2 linked regions of the Homo sapiens genome follow. The protein of the gene in region 2 interacts with the protein of the main gene of each other region in a biochemical or structural test. Each region holds a gene or a part of one and is shown on either strand. Other genes may lie near its edges.

Region 1 (6,382 bases), on a different chromosome or scaffold from region 2:
AATTCTGACTTGGATACTAATATCACATCATTGTACCCATTTCAAACTCCCCCTCTGTAAAATGGAAAATTGGACTAGATGATCTCTTAGGACTTCAAACTGTAACCCTGTGGTTTTATTCAAAAAAAACAGGTAGCTTCTTGCTGGAGATTCCTGGATGGATTCCAGTCTTCCCAAGAGGTAACAAAGGAGAGGTAACCAGTTGCCCGTGCAGTAGCTCAAGAATACAGAAGAGAAACTGGCTTCACTCACTATTCCATCTTTTTCCAAGGTGGCAAACTCTATGCCTCCTCCCCAGAGAAAAGCCTAACTGTAGGTTCTAATGGACAAGAGCTCACTGTAGCTGGTCAGAAAGGCCTATATCCAGGACTACAATAGTCATTGCTCAGCTTCCTAAGTAGGGAATACAACTAGGCCCCTTTGGGTCTTGGATAGGCTAAGAGGACAGATCTGAACATGCCTGGGTCTAAGTGAGGTGTGGGAAAATAGTGGCAGGGGGCAGCATGGTCGTGCAGTAAAGGGCTATAACTTTATTTGTATTTCCTCTTACACAAAACCATCAAAACAAGAACAGAAAAAGGCTGAAAATCCGTTCAAACCCCATGTTCTCAGGGATATTCCAGGGAGTTCTTGAGGCTGAGTGCGTAGCTTCAAATCCAGCACTAATTCCTCACCCCCTGGCCTGAGGTCTTCATAGATTGGTGGCTTGAGCCCTGCAATTAATTATAATCCCTTGCCCACCTTGATGTAAGGCAGGAAAGCAGATTGAAATGCTCCTCTCTGATGGGCAAGGGGAATCACAGCCCATAGATGTACTGCACCTTCTGTACTACAGGAGCAGAACCTGAAGCTGCTTCCAAGGCTCTGGACACTTGGCACGCAGGGCTAGAGGCCAATGGTATATGAGCGGCCTGTGGGGTTATGAATAGCAGAACAGACTGGTGCTGTCACAGCCCACTCATACCACACCTTCTTGGAATTGCTGCATCGCCAGAAACGCACACAGATGGTTTGGCCTTCACGTACCGTTATGGGCTGCTGTAAGAAGAAAGACAGGAAGGTTCAGGGTGAAGCTATGAATTATACATGGCAATGTATTAAGGTAGGTGTGGAGATAAAATGATAAACATGACAAGACTGTCCCAACCCTCATGAAAGTTATTTGAAGCCTATCAGAACACAAATAATCAAAGGTGTGGTGAGAGCTGTGAACATGTACAGAGTCAGAAAAACACCTATGAAAGGGAACACTAACCTAGTCTAGGAGATCAGAGAAAGTTTATCTCACAATAAAAATGTTTAAAGAAGACCTAGAAGATAGGTTAACTGTGTGAAGAGACAAGCAAAGAACTCTACAGGCAAGAGAAAGGCATGAAAGCCTGAGGTAGGAAAGAAGATAGACAATTAGAACAAAAAGAAGGTCCATAAGGCTGAAGCAGTGTAAGCAAGGGGACAGTAGCTGCAAAGGCAAGCAAACACTCGATCACATCAAGTCTTACAAGCAATGTCCCAGATTTTGACTTTTATCCTAAAGACAATGGGAAGGCATTGAAGAGTTTTAAGCAAAAAAGAGAGATAAGATCAGGCCAGGCGCGGTGGCTCACGCCTGTAATCCCAGCACTTTGGGAGGCTGAGGTGGGCGGATCATGAGGTCAGGAGATCGAGACCATCCTGGCTAACACGGTAAAACCCCGTCTCTACTAAAAATACAAGAATTAGCCGGGTGTGGTGGCTGGCACCTGTAATCTCAGCCTCAGGGAGGCTGAGGCAGGAGAATGGCATGAACCCGGGAGGCGGAGCTTGCAGTGAGCCGAAATTGTGCCACTGCACTCCAGCCTGGGCGACAGAGTGAGACTCCGTCTCTTTAAAAAAAAAAAAAAAAAAAAGACAGCAAGAGAGATAAGATCAAATTTGAGTTTTTAAAAGATGACTCTTGCTCAAAGTAGAGAACAGACAGAAGAGTAGCCAGAGTAGATGCGGGAAAGCCAGGCAGAAGGCCACTCCAAATACTCCCAACACCTACCACTGGGATCCAAGAGCATATGAAATCAGGAGAACATGAGTCATAGTCAACTATCTTCCTGGGAGAAGGAAAGAAGCACAACACCAAAGGCAAAGGTTACTGCTTAACTAGAGAGTCTTAAAAGCAGTTCCTACCTTAATAGGGAAGAGGATGGGAAACCATGAGAACATCCCAGGAGAGTGAGTCTCTGGACGGATACCTGTGTGGACAAAATAATGAAAAAACAGAGGTCTCCATGGCTGTGACTTTTGCCTATGCTGAAGAGGGTCTCTTCTCTAATCACACAAAGATCTCCATTCATTGAGCACTGGGCCCCCCATAAATCTAAATGACACATGTACATATAAGCTGCCCAGGAAGCACACCCTCATACTCTGCCATCTACTGCCATAGACACTCACTCAGAGTGATGTCCTGATAAAGCACAGTCTCAAAGTAGCCGGCAAAGCCATGTAGTACTGTGTTCACCTCCACAGGAAATTCCAAGGTGCAATAGCGGTTGTTGTCAATCATAGGATCTGTCAGGAAATAATTATGTGGGTGACAAGGGGCCAGAAGCTCTAGACAACTTGATAAAGCATGAGCAAGACCCAGGAAAGGAAGAGTAGATAAGGCAGACTAGGGACAGTAAGGGAAGAAAGCAGGAGGAAGGAAGAAGCCCGTACCCCTCTAGTCAGAGGACAGCCATAAAAGAACCTACCTCTGTTGGGATGGCTGAAGGTGAAACAGGGCTGGGGTGCAGAGAGCTGGTGGAAGTTGTGCAGCCGTACCACATAAGGCATCTCAAACTGGGCCTGTCAGAGACAGAAAGAGAGAGAGAGTGTTGGGGAAGACACACAAGAGAGAACTACTTCCCCAAGGATTAAAAAAAGTTTTACTTTAGTGCTTCCCCAATCCCTAACTTCTCCTTCACCTCTTCATCCCCAGCAGAAGAAAATAGCTGATGCAAATACAGAAAAAGAAGAGGACTAAAGAGTACCACTTCTTTCCAGAGAGAGTGGTTCTTTACCTCAGGGTCACGGTCCTTCTCCCTACAGGCTCGGACCTCATTGTACAGCTTGGAGGAAGAGATGGGAGCCAGAAAGGAAGTGTACTCCCCGGGGATGCTCACACCATCATCTGCACAGCAGGAGAGTCAAATTAGTTCCAGAGGGAGGGAAATGGTATGTCTGTACTAACTGAAGGATCAGAAGGATCAAACCTCCCATGTCAAAACCAACCAACGTTGGCATGGGCATGGAAGAAAGAGACAAATGCATGTTGTCACATTACTAAGCCAGCCTGCTTCCAACTACTGTCATGGAGGATTCCACTACTAGGTTAATTTACAGAGTCACACAGATTAAAACTGAAAGAACCCAAGATAGTCTAATCTGGTGGTTCTTAACTTTTGTGGGGTCACAAAGTCCCACAAAAGTTCCTGATGAAAGCTAAGCTCAGGGTACATATGTCATATTTATTTATTTATTTATTTATTTATTTATTTATTTGAGATGGAGTCTCGCTCTGTTGCCCAGGCTGGAGTGCAGTGGCACAATCTCAGCTCACTGCAACCTTCTCCTCCCAGGTTCAAGTGATTCTCGCGCCTCAGCCTCCCGAGTAGCTGGGATTACAGGCGTGCACCGCCACGCCTGGCTAATTTTTGTATTTTTAGTAGTGATGGGGTTTCGCCATGTTGCCCAGGCTGGTCTCAAACTCCTGACCTCCCGCCTTGGCCTCCCAAAGTGCTGCAATTACAGGCATGAGCCACCGCGCCCAGCCCACTCCCTTCATTTTACAAATATGAACACTAAGGTTTGGAGAGATGACTTCATTTGCTAGGGGCACAGAGGCAGTGAAGCAGTGGCTCTCAAACTCATATGATGTGACCCAGGTCCAACCCACTTTCCCCTAAACCCTGTACCCTCCTCCCAGGTTGCTGTCTCACCCATCATCACCCTCCACCTACACCCCAACCTGGGGGCACCTTTTAGGAAGTGCTGGGCTCCATCCAGGCACTCAGGCGACAATTCATTGTCAGCAAATGAGCCCAGAAGCTCACTGACAATGATGTCTGCTTTCTCTGGAGCCACCCATTCCCTCATGTCTGATGAGACTACGGTCACTTGGCTTCCCCATTCTTCAAACTGCCAGTTCTCTAGCCTGAAACAGAGACAATAAGGTAAGGAGAGATGTTAAGGAAATTTGGCAATGAGGACTAACTTCCCAGCAAGCAGGTTGCTACTCACGTCACCACGGCATTTGGGTTTTTCTCCACAGCATACAGCTTTATCCGCCGGTCGGCCTGCTTGGCTGCCCGCAGGGAAGCGTTCACCAGGGGTCCCCGTCCTGCTCCCAGCACCATCAGTACCCTAAGAAAGAAAGGGAAGAGTCAAGCAGACTTGGCATATACAGATATAGGTATGCAAGTCCCTGAGATTGAGGGGAAAGCACTCACTGGACATTGGTATCCTTCTCCTCTTCTGGTACTCGGTCTAGCAGACATTTATAGATGGCCTGGAGGGAGGAGAGAATATCCCATGGTTGTAATCCCATCCTCCCCAGGTCATGCTGGCCCTGTGCTTTCCTCACCCTGGGCACCACACAGTACCTGCTGGTACTGAGAGTATTTGATGGGGTCCTTTTCAAACACTTCATATGTCTGAGATTCCAGATTGTCCATCAGTGGCTGATGAATGAGGAAAAGGACAAAGTTAGCCAGTTTCTGGCAAAGGACAATGCACTAAAATATCAAAAACTTTCCACTGCTTTCTGAGTTTTAGTAAGATTTGGAGGCATATATTCTCAAGAAACATTTTCCATCCCACCTTCCTCCTCTAAGTGCACTCCAGACCCACCTGAAGCGGGGACTGCAGATAGTCTTCATAGCCCTTGGCAAAGAGTTCATAGGCATTAGGTGGAGGACGGTTCTGGCTTAAGTATTCCAGGTATTGGAGGTAGGAGCAGAACTCCTTCTCTGAGTGGTGGTTGGTGCCTGTGATGATGAACTGCACCTCCAACTGTGAGAAAAGTCAGACCATCAGACACAGCCCTCAAACCAAGATTCTGGAATATTATGGTATATGGCCAAAGAGCCCTAGTGTAAAATAAGGCCCAGATCAACAGTTCTCTTTTTTTTTTTTTTTAAAAAAAAAGATGGAGTCTCGCTCTATTGCCCAGGCTGGAGTGCAATGGCGTGATCTTGGCTCACTTGCAACCTCCACCTCCCAGGTTCAAGCAATTCTCCTGCCTCAGCCTCCCAAGTAGCTGGGACTACAGGTGCGTGCCACCATGCTTGGCTAATTTTTGTATTTTTAGTAGAGACGGGGTTTCACCATGTTGGACAGGCTGGTCTCAAACTCCTGACCTCAGATGATCCATCCGCCTCAGCCTCCCAAAGTCCTGGGATTACAGGCGCGAGCCACTGCACCTGGCCCAGACCAACAGTTCTCTAGCGTCTGTCCCAATACCAACAAAGGCAGCATGAGGCTTCAGTAAACTTATAAAAAGCCCCCTTGGCCGGGCGTGGTGGCCCACGCCTGTAATCCCAATACTTTGGAAGGCCGAGGCGGGTGGATCATTTGAGGTCAGGCGTTCAAGACCAGCCTGGCCAACATGATAAAACCTGTCTCTACTGAAAATACAAAAATTAGCCGGGCAGTAGTGGTGCATTCCTATAATCCCAGCTACTCAGGAGGCTAAAGCAGAAGAATCGCTTAAGCCTGGGAGGCAGAGGTTCTGGTGAGCTGAGATGGTATGGCTGCACTCCAGTCTGGGTAACAGAGTGAGACCCTGTCTCAAAAAAAAAAAGAAAAAAGAAAAAGCCCTCTTATGCCATGAAAGTATCAACACCCAAACAGCCTCATGGATCCTTGCTGTAACTTCCTAAATGAAACCTTCTGCAAAGTTCTCATGAGGTTTGGTTTGTTTTGAAAGGTTTCTAGGGCTACTACTGGCATTTACCTTTTTGTTCTCAAGATTCCCAACTTCACTGAAATTGCTCCCCAGAAACCAAAGAAAAAGAGTCAGCCTCACAGGAAAAAACGATCATACACAGGTAAATAAGGCAAGATGTATAGCTGGACTACCTTTAGAACCCTCCTACCACTCACCTTGAGGAGCCGGAAGATGAGCCTCTGGTGCATCTTAGAAAGAACAGGAAATCCCTTCTTATTGGTCAGGAAAATGCTAGTGGGGAGAATGGCTGCTTTGATGGGCTCCCCAAGCCAGCGATCAATGACATGATTAGATGGGAGGTCAGCCCCAATTTCAAGAGCTACATGAGGCAAAAGAAAAACTGTCAACCACTGCCAGGCAAGAAACCCTTCCTTGCTCCTTTGCGCAAAATCTGTTTACTTCTTTAAGAGAAAGCCAGTCTGA
Region 2 (6,908 bases):
TACTCGGGAGGCTGAGGCAGGAGAATTGCTTTAACCTGGGAAGCGGAGGTTGCGGTGAGCTGACATCGTGCCACTGTACTCCAGCCTGGTGACACAGCGAGACTCCGTTTCAAAAAAAAAAGATATTTTGAGAGAGAACACATTCACGTAACTTTCAGTATACTGGCATAATTGTTCTATATTACTATTGTTATTAATCACATATGCATAATTTATAAGTTAAACCATATCAGAAATAGTATATATAGGAGGAAAAAAAAGCAGTTTCAGGCATCCATTGGGGCGGGGGGGTCTTAGAATGTATCCCCTAGGAATAAGGTGAGACTGCTGTACTATTTTCACCGTTTCAAGCTGTTTCTCTCGGTAGAAGGATGGATTTGAACATAAGAAAAGTTCAGGACTTCCCTTAAGGAAGCTCCAAGCAAGGCTTCCAAAGGAGGTTACTGTTCAACTGGGCAGAGAAGGCCACTAAGCAGCAGAGAGGACTGGCTAAAAGAGAAGGTAAATGAGACAGAGGGACTATTCCTCTCCTCACATCCTTGGTCTCCCCAACTTCCGTCTCTGCCATCTACTTGCCTAGTCGATCCATAGCCTTCTCAGTCTCTCTCTCCTGACTGGAGTGGTCAGCTGTAGCAAAGCCAGCCTGCAGGAAGAAGAAATGATTACCAAGGACTTGGGTATCTGGGGTATGCCCAGTATTCAGCTATTGCATCTCAACCCCACCCACTCTTCCATACTCCCCTTGGTGATGCAGGGCTGGGACTCTGCCACCCACATTTCTACTTTGCCCTGTTAAACTGAGCAAGGCTGGAGGGAGATGGGCCTTGTTCCTTCCTATTCATGTAGGCATCACCTCATGACACTTCACCGTGGCAGCAGGAATGCCTTCCTATAGTGGCCACAGAATCCAGTATACAGTTCTGCGAACTCTTGCAGAGCCAGTCTTATCACTGCACCTTCTCTTTAGAGGTCTGGGTCTCAGGACTCTCCTCCAAGCTCAGAGACCCCCTACCATCAGCTGGGGCAGTGCCTTCTCCTTAAAGGTTGGAATTTCAGCTCTGCAGAGCCTTTTCCCTAAGCTTTTAAATTTTAATCAACTTCATCTCTTTGTTCCTTCAGCCATAGGTTGGTAGCTGTTCCCTGCGGTTGCCACCCCCAGGTACACGTTTTACCTTTTCAGTTACTTAACAACTTTATAGCTAGTAAACAACTCTATCAAATTCTCTGTTTCCTCACCAACACACTGAGGTGGGGGAAGCTTTATAATTCCTCTGCAATGCTGAGCACTGAAGGCAGTATTTCTAATCTAACTGAAAATCTTCCCGCACAGCCAACCAAATGCTTCTCTGCTCCCATCACTCAGAAGTTCCTGAAACCCTATGACCTCCAAGACCTCTTTCTAATGAATCACGAAATGTTCCCTGCCTGCATAAAAGACCTGATTTTGATCCCAGCTCTGCCATCCATTCAGAGTGTGACCTTGAACACATCACTTCAATTACTGTGCCTGAGTTTTCTTCTCCAGAAATTAGGGGTGACTGTTCTGACCCTGCAGGGGACTTATGATTAGACACCATTTATGAAAACACCTGGCATGTGGCAAGAATGTAACATTTCTTGAATTTAAATTCATCTTTTCTGCTACATCTAAACTGTACTCGGCACCTGCTCCAATCAGCATTCATTATCTAGTCATGTCTGGGTTTAATAATTCAGTTCCACTCCCTGTAGTTAGTGACAACCTCTGGTCACTGCCGCCCAAGGAGAAGTCAGACCTCTCACCTAAACCACTGCCACGGCCTCCTAACCACCTTCCCATCCAGCCATCTGGCCCAGCCTTACAGAATTAATCACTACTCTGCTCAAAACCTTCAACAGCCCTCCACTGAGAGAGCACAAAATTAGCCATGGCATTCGCACGTCCCCTCTTCTCCCACTCCCATCAACCTGTTGAGCATAGTTCTCTGCATGCTCTGAGACCCAACTCCAGGCCATGTGCCCTGCACTTTCTCATCTCCACGCCTCTGCAGACACCACCAGCCTCTCACCTTGATCCTTTCCTGCTATGCCCTGACAAAATTAGTCCCATTCTATTCTGCACTCCAAAGTAATTTTCTTTGTAAGTGTCGCTGCATTTTTCATATCTTACTTTGGCTAAGTACCATCTTTGAGGCATCATTCATCCAGTCGGTATGTCTATCTCCTGTGCCAGGCACTATGCTAGGCTGTGCAAACAGCCCTAACAGAGGGTTCCTACCTTCAAGCCGCTCAGCACCTAGCCGGTACAGACTGTAAACAAGGACAGGTAAGAACTGTAATAACGGTCTGTAACGTTCTCGGGAAAACCAGGAGCTGTCTAGCTTACATGAAAACAAGTTTCTGGAAACCCTGCGTCAAACAGGGCCTTTCTGGTTTCAGTAAGGAGAAGGGGGAGCGCGCATGTGACATCTGGGGCTCAGGGTTAGCTGGCATCCCCACCAACGGACAGAGGTCCACAGGTCTGTAAAGTCAAGTCCCTCTCCTCGCCGCCCTCACCTGGCCCTCGCCCAGGCTCCTGGCAGCGGGCCCCGGCTCTCGGTCACCAGCGTCACCTCCCATTTACCAAATCCGCAGCGGCGCCCAGCGGGCGGACAGCCGTCTCTGCTGACCCAGAGCGCCCACCCACGCCCTCGGCTTTCCCCGCCCCGCAGCCCCGCGGCCCCGCGGCCTGGCCGTTTTCAGCTCGAGCGCGAGCCCAAACAGCGCTCCGTGTCGCGGGGCGGCCCGAGGCCGGCCAGAGGCGCTTCCCCGGCCCCGCGGCCCCCGCCCAGCCCGGCCCCGCGACTTCCCGCCCCAGGCTGCGGCTGGCTGTTGCTCCTGGCCCCCACGCGGCGCTCACCTCCGGGCTGGGGGGCGCCCCCCGCGCGCTAGGCAGCGGCGGGCCCCGAGACGGCTCCGCGGCCCCCTGCGCCTGGGCCCCGGCGGCCTGAAGGTCCATGCCCTGCGGCCCGCGGCTGGTCGCCCTGGACGCCGTGGGCCACGTGACGCGCCGGCCCGGCTGCCCGCCCGAGGATCCGCCGCAGAAGCGCCAATCAGCCTGGGGAGGGGGTGGGTACCGGCCAAGAGGGCGGGGCGCGGGGGTGTCACGAGCAAGCGGGGGCGGGGCGGCGCAGGGGGCGGGGCGCGCGGCCTCGCGGAGCCCGCCCCTCCCTCCCAGCGCGAAATCTGAAACAATCTCGGAGACGGATTTTGGAAACTCCTCTCGGTGCATATCCTAAGGCTGCACGACTAGCTGCGTGTGAAACGCCAAGCGTACCCTACTCGGCCACTCGGGGTGTGCTCCAGCTTCAAAACCCCGCGTGGGTAAGACACATGAGCAACCCAGTGACCTCCACCTTGAGCTAATGATCGTCTTTGAAGTTAATCCATTAGAAACCAAGATAGATGATTAAGACACAAACTGCAATATGCAGTGGACACAGAATACAGGCCACGACGCTTACTCATAATAATCCTGAACATTCGGGATTCCTGTATTTCCATGCTCAACGCCTGATACCGACAACCTAATTATTTCCCATTTTGCCTCGAAAGGTGGCTTCTGGGGATAGGCAGGGCCTGAGCTGGGAACAGCCCAACTGGAAAGACAGCCTTCCCTGCCTTCCCCACAGTGCCTAACCTCTAATAACAAACCAGCTCAAGGTGTGCTAATCACGTCAACATCAGGACATGAGACCCTCTTCCTTCATCCCCCTCAAAGACTGTGTTGTTTGTACAACACAAAAGGCATTTGAAAAAATTTAGCATAAAACTGACACACAATATTCGATATTATTTTTGTTCTATATGTAGATGTTCCTACACAGGAGTCAGTATCCCCAAGGCTAACTGCCTCTAGGTCAGCAATGTCCAATAGAACGTTCTTTAATGGTGGAAGTGGAAATGAAAGTTCTACTATCTGTACTGTCCAATATAGTAACCATATACCTACTGAGCACTTGAAATGTGGCCAATGTGAATAAATTGAATAATTCTAATAAATTTAAATTGCTACATGTGCCTTGGAGCTACTGTTTCTAACAGTGCAACTCTAGGTGTACTAGCTAGATGTGTTTTCATAACCTGCAATATTGAGAATCAGATACAGGGATGTGATGACCCCAGGTGACCACCCTTATAGCCTTGTGTTAAGGAGACTACCACTATCCTCTTTGCTCCCTAATCTACATATCTCTTTCGTAAAATTAAAGTGCCAAATAAGATTAAGAATGTTAAACATCCCAGGACTTAAGGGACAGGAAAAAGAGGAATTTTTTTCTTATTTTAAAACAAATGACAAGAAAACAGGGGCTGGCCGCGGTGGCTCACTCCTGTAATTCCAGCACTTTGGGAGGCCGAGGCAGGCAGATCACTTGAGGTCAGTTCAAGGCTATCCTGGCCAACATGGTGAAACCCCATCTCTACTAAAAATACAAAAATTAGCCAGGCGTGGTGGCACACACCCATAATCCCAGCTACTCGGGAGGCTGAGGCAGGAGAATCACTTGAGCCCGGGAGGTGGAGGGTGCAGTGAGCAGAGATTGCCCCACAGCACTCCAGCCTGGGCGACAGAGTGAGACTTGGTCTAAAAAAAAAAAAAACCAGAAAGAAAAAGAAAACAGTACAAAAGCTTAAAATAAAAATGTTCTAAAGTAGACTCTAATACTCATAGAAATTTAATATATAATAAAGGTAACATCACAAATCAGCAGAGAGAAACATAACTGCCCAAATAGTGTTGGCAAAATTAACTGCTTGGGGAAAAAGAGTTGTTCTCAGCACCAGGAAGAGCTTCCAAAGCATTTTAAAAACAGACATCACACATACACACACAAAATACCTCTGGGCATCAAAAATCGCCACAAAAGGTGCCTATAATCCCAGCTACTTGGGAGGCTTTGGCAGGGAGAACTGTTTGAACCTAGGAGGCAGAGGTTGCAGTAAGACCACACCACTGCACTCCAGCCTGGACCACAGAGCAAGACTCTGTCTCAAAAAAAAAAAATCACCACAAACAAGGCTGGGGGTAAAATTATTTGCAACAAATGAGAAACAAGATATTAATATTCTGAATATGTTTTTAAAAACTCTGGCCAGGCACAATGGCTCATGCCTATAATACCAGCACTTTGGGAGGTTGAGGTAGGAGGATTGTTTGAGCCCAACTGTTTAAGAGACCAGCCCTGGCAACATAGCAAGACCAGTCTCTACAAAAAAAAATTTAAATTAACCAGGCATGGTGGTGTGCACCTGCAGTCCCAGCTACTCAAGAGGCTGAGGTGGGAGGATCTCTTGAGCCCAGAAGTTAAGGCTGTAGTGAGCCATGATCACACCACTGCACTCTAGCCTAGGTGACAAAGCAAGAACTTGTCCAATTTAAAAAAAAAAATTAACTCATAAATTAGTAAGAAAAAAAATTTTTAAATAGTCTAAGGATGTAAAAAGATGAGAAACATAAAATACACTAACTTCACTAATATCAAAGTATGGTAAAACAATGACATATCACATTTCACCTATAAAATGGTAAAAATAAAAGATATAATTACACCAGTACAGGTAAGGGTACTGACACTTTCATGTATTGCTTGAAAGAAGGAGCAAACCAGCAATACATATCAGTATTCTCTAAAAGCAGTATCCTTTGATCCAGTAATTCCACTGTCGGATGTCAATCTCCTAAGGAAATGGCCAGGGATGTGAACAAAGATTGACAAGAATCTTCATCAACAGCATTTATCTAATTTTTAAAAAAATTAGAAATGACAGTCCAGGCCAGGCTTAGTGGTTCACGCCTGTAATCCCAACACTTTGGGAGGCCAAGGCGGGTGGATCATGAGGTCAGGAGTTCGCAACCAGCCTGGCCAATATGATGAAACCCCCGCACTACTAAAAATACAAAAATTGGCTGGGCGCGGTGGCGGGTGCCTGTAATCCCACCCAGCTGCTCGGGAGGCTGAGCCAGAACCACTTGAACCCGGGAGGTGGAGGTTGCAGTGAGCCGAGATGGAGCCACTGCACTCCAGCCTGGATGACAGAGCAAGGCTCCATCTCAAAAAAAAAAAGACAGTCTAACCAGAGGATTAGTAAAATATATTATGGCTCATTTTTACAATGTAATGTTACGAATTCATTAAATGTTTTTAAGGCTATTTAATGACACAGAAAAACAATACTAAGTGAAACGTAACAATAAGCTACACTGAAAGCTTCTCCCAGTGACAGGATGCTTTTTTTTACCACACTATTCTATTTCCTCCATATTTTCCAGAACAAATGCATACCACGTATCTTTTATAATGAGAATAAACCAACAAAACTGTACTTTCTCCTTTTTTTTTTTCCTTGAGAAGGAGTTTCGCTCTTCTTACCCAGGATGGAGTAGCAATGGCATGATCTCGGCTCACTGCAACCTCCGTCTCCCAGGTTCAAGCAATTCTCCTGCCTCAGCCTCCCAAGCAGCTGGGATTACAGGCACCCACCACCACACCTGGCTAATTTTTGTATTTTTAGTAGAGACGGGGTTTCACCATGTTGGCCAGGCTAGTCTCAAACTCCTGACCTCAGGTGATCCGCCTGCCTCAGCCTTCCCAAAGTGCTGGGATTACAGGCGTTGAGTCACCATGCCTGGCCACTTTCTCCTTCATTTTAACTGGCTCTTAGGTCGAGATTAGAGATACTCATGCTTGACCTGGGATAATTTTAAAAAAACCCAGTCGTATGCTATCCATGTATTTTGGGAAACATTTAGGACCTGTGGAAGATCGGGCCTCAACATTAAATCAGCAATTCTCTTTACTGGAATCAGATTAGCACATCAAACTGAGCAGTGTCATGCACCTATAATCCCAGCTACTCAGGAGTCTGAGGTGAGAAGGTCACTTGAGTCC

Evidence for each region.
Region 1: the proteins of COPRS (region 2) and PRMT5 form a complex in vitro, tested with the Homo sapiens proteins (3 studies listed by BioGRID, with this or other methods).

The regions. Positions count from the first base shown.
Region 1 is NC_000014.9:22,920,019-22,926,400, forward strand, and holds the end of PRMT5 (protein arginine N-methyltransferase 5), read right to left. Parts: intron 6,279-6,382; coding exon 6,115-6,278; intron 5,023-6,114; coding exon 4,861-5,022; intron 4,692-4,860; coding exon 4,614-4,691; intron 4,520-4,613; coding exon 4,461-4,519; intron 4,424-4,460; exon of another isoform or gene 4,375-4,423; coding exon 4,252-4,374; intron 4,166-4,251; coding exon 3,990-4,165; intron 3,390-3,989; exon of another isoform or gene 3,143-3,389; coding exon 3,033-3,142; exon of another isoform or gene 2,951-3,032; intron 2,818-2,950; coding exon 2,724-2,817; intron 2,542-2,723; coding exon 2,425-2,541; intron 2,223-2,424; coding exon 2,158-2,222; intron 1,103-2,157; exon of another isoform or gene 1,039-1,102; coding exon 886-1,038; 3' UTR 511-885; downstream 1-510. UniProt on the Homo sapiens protein: Arginine methyltransferase that can both catalyze the formation of omega-N monomethylarginine (MMA) and symmetrical dimethylarginine (sDMA), with a preference for the formation of MMA.
Region 2 is NC_000017.11:31,856,223-31,863,130, forward strand, and holds the start of COPRS (coordinator of PRMT5 and differentiation stimulator), read right to left. Parts: upstream 3,023-6,908; 5' UTR 2,978-3,022; coding exon 2,879-2,977; intron 2,741-2,878; exon of another isoform or gene 2,599-2,740; coding exon of another isoform or gene 2,536-2,598; intron 644-2,535; coding exon 577-643; intron 1-576. UniProt on the Homo sapiens protein: Histone-binding protein required for histone H4 methyltransferase activity of PRMT5.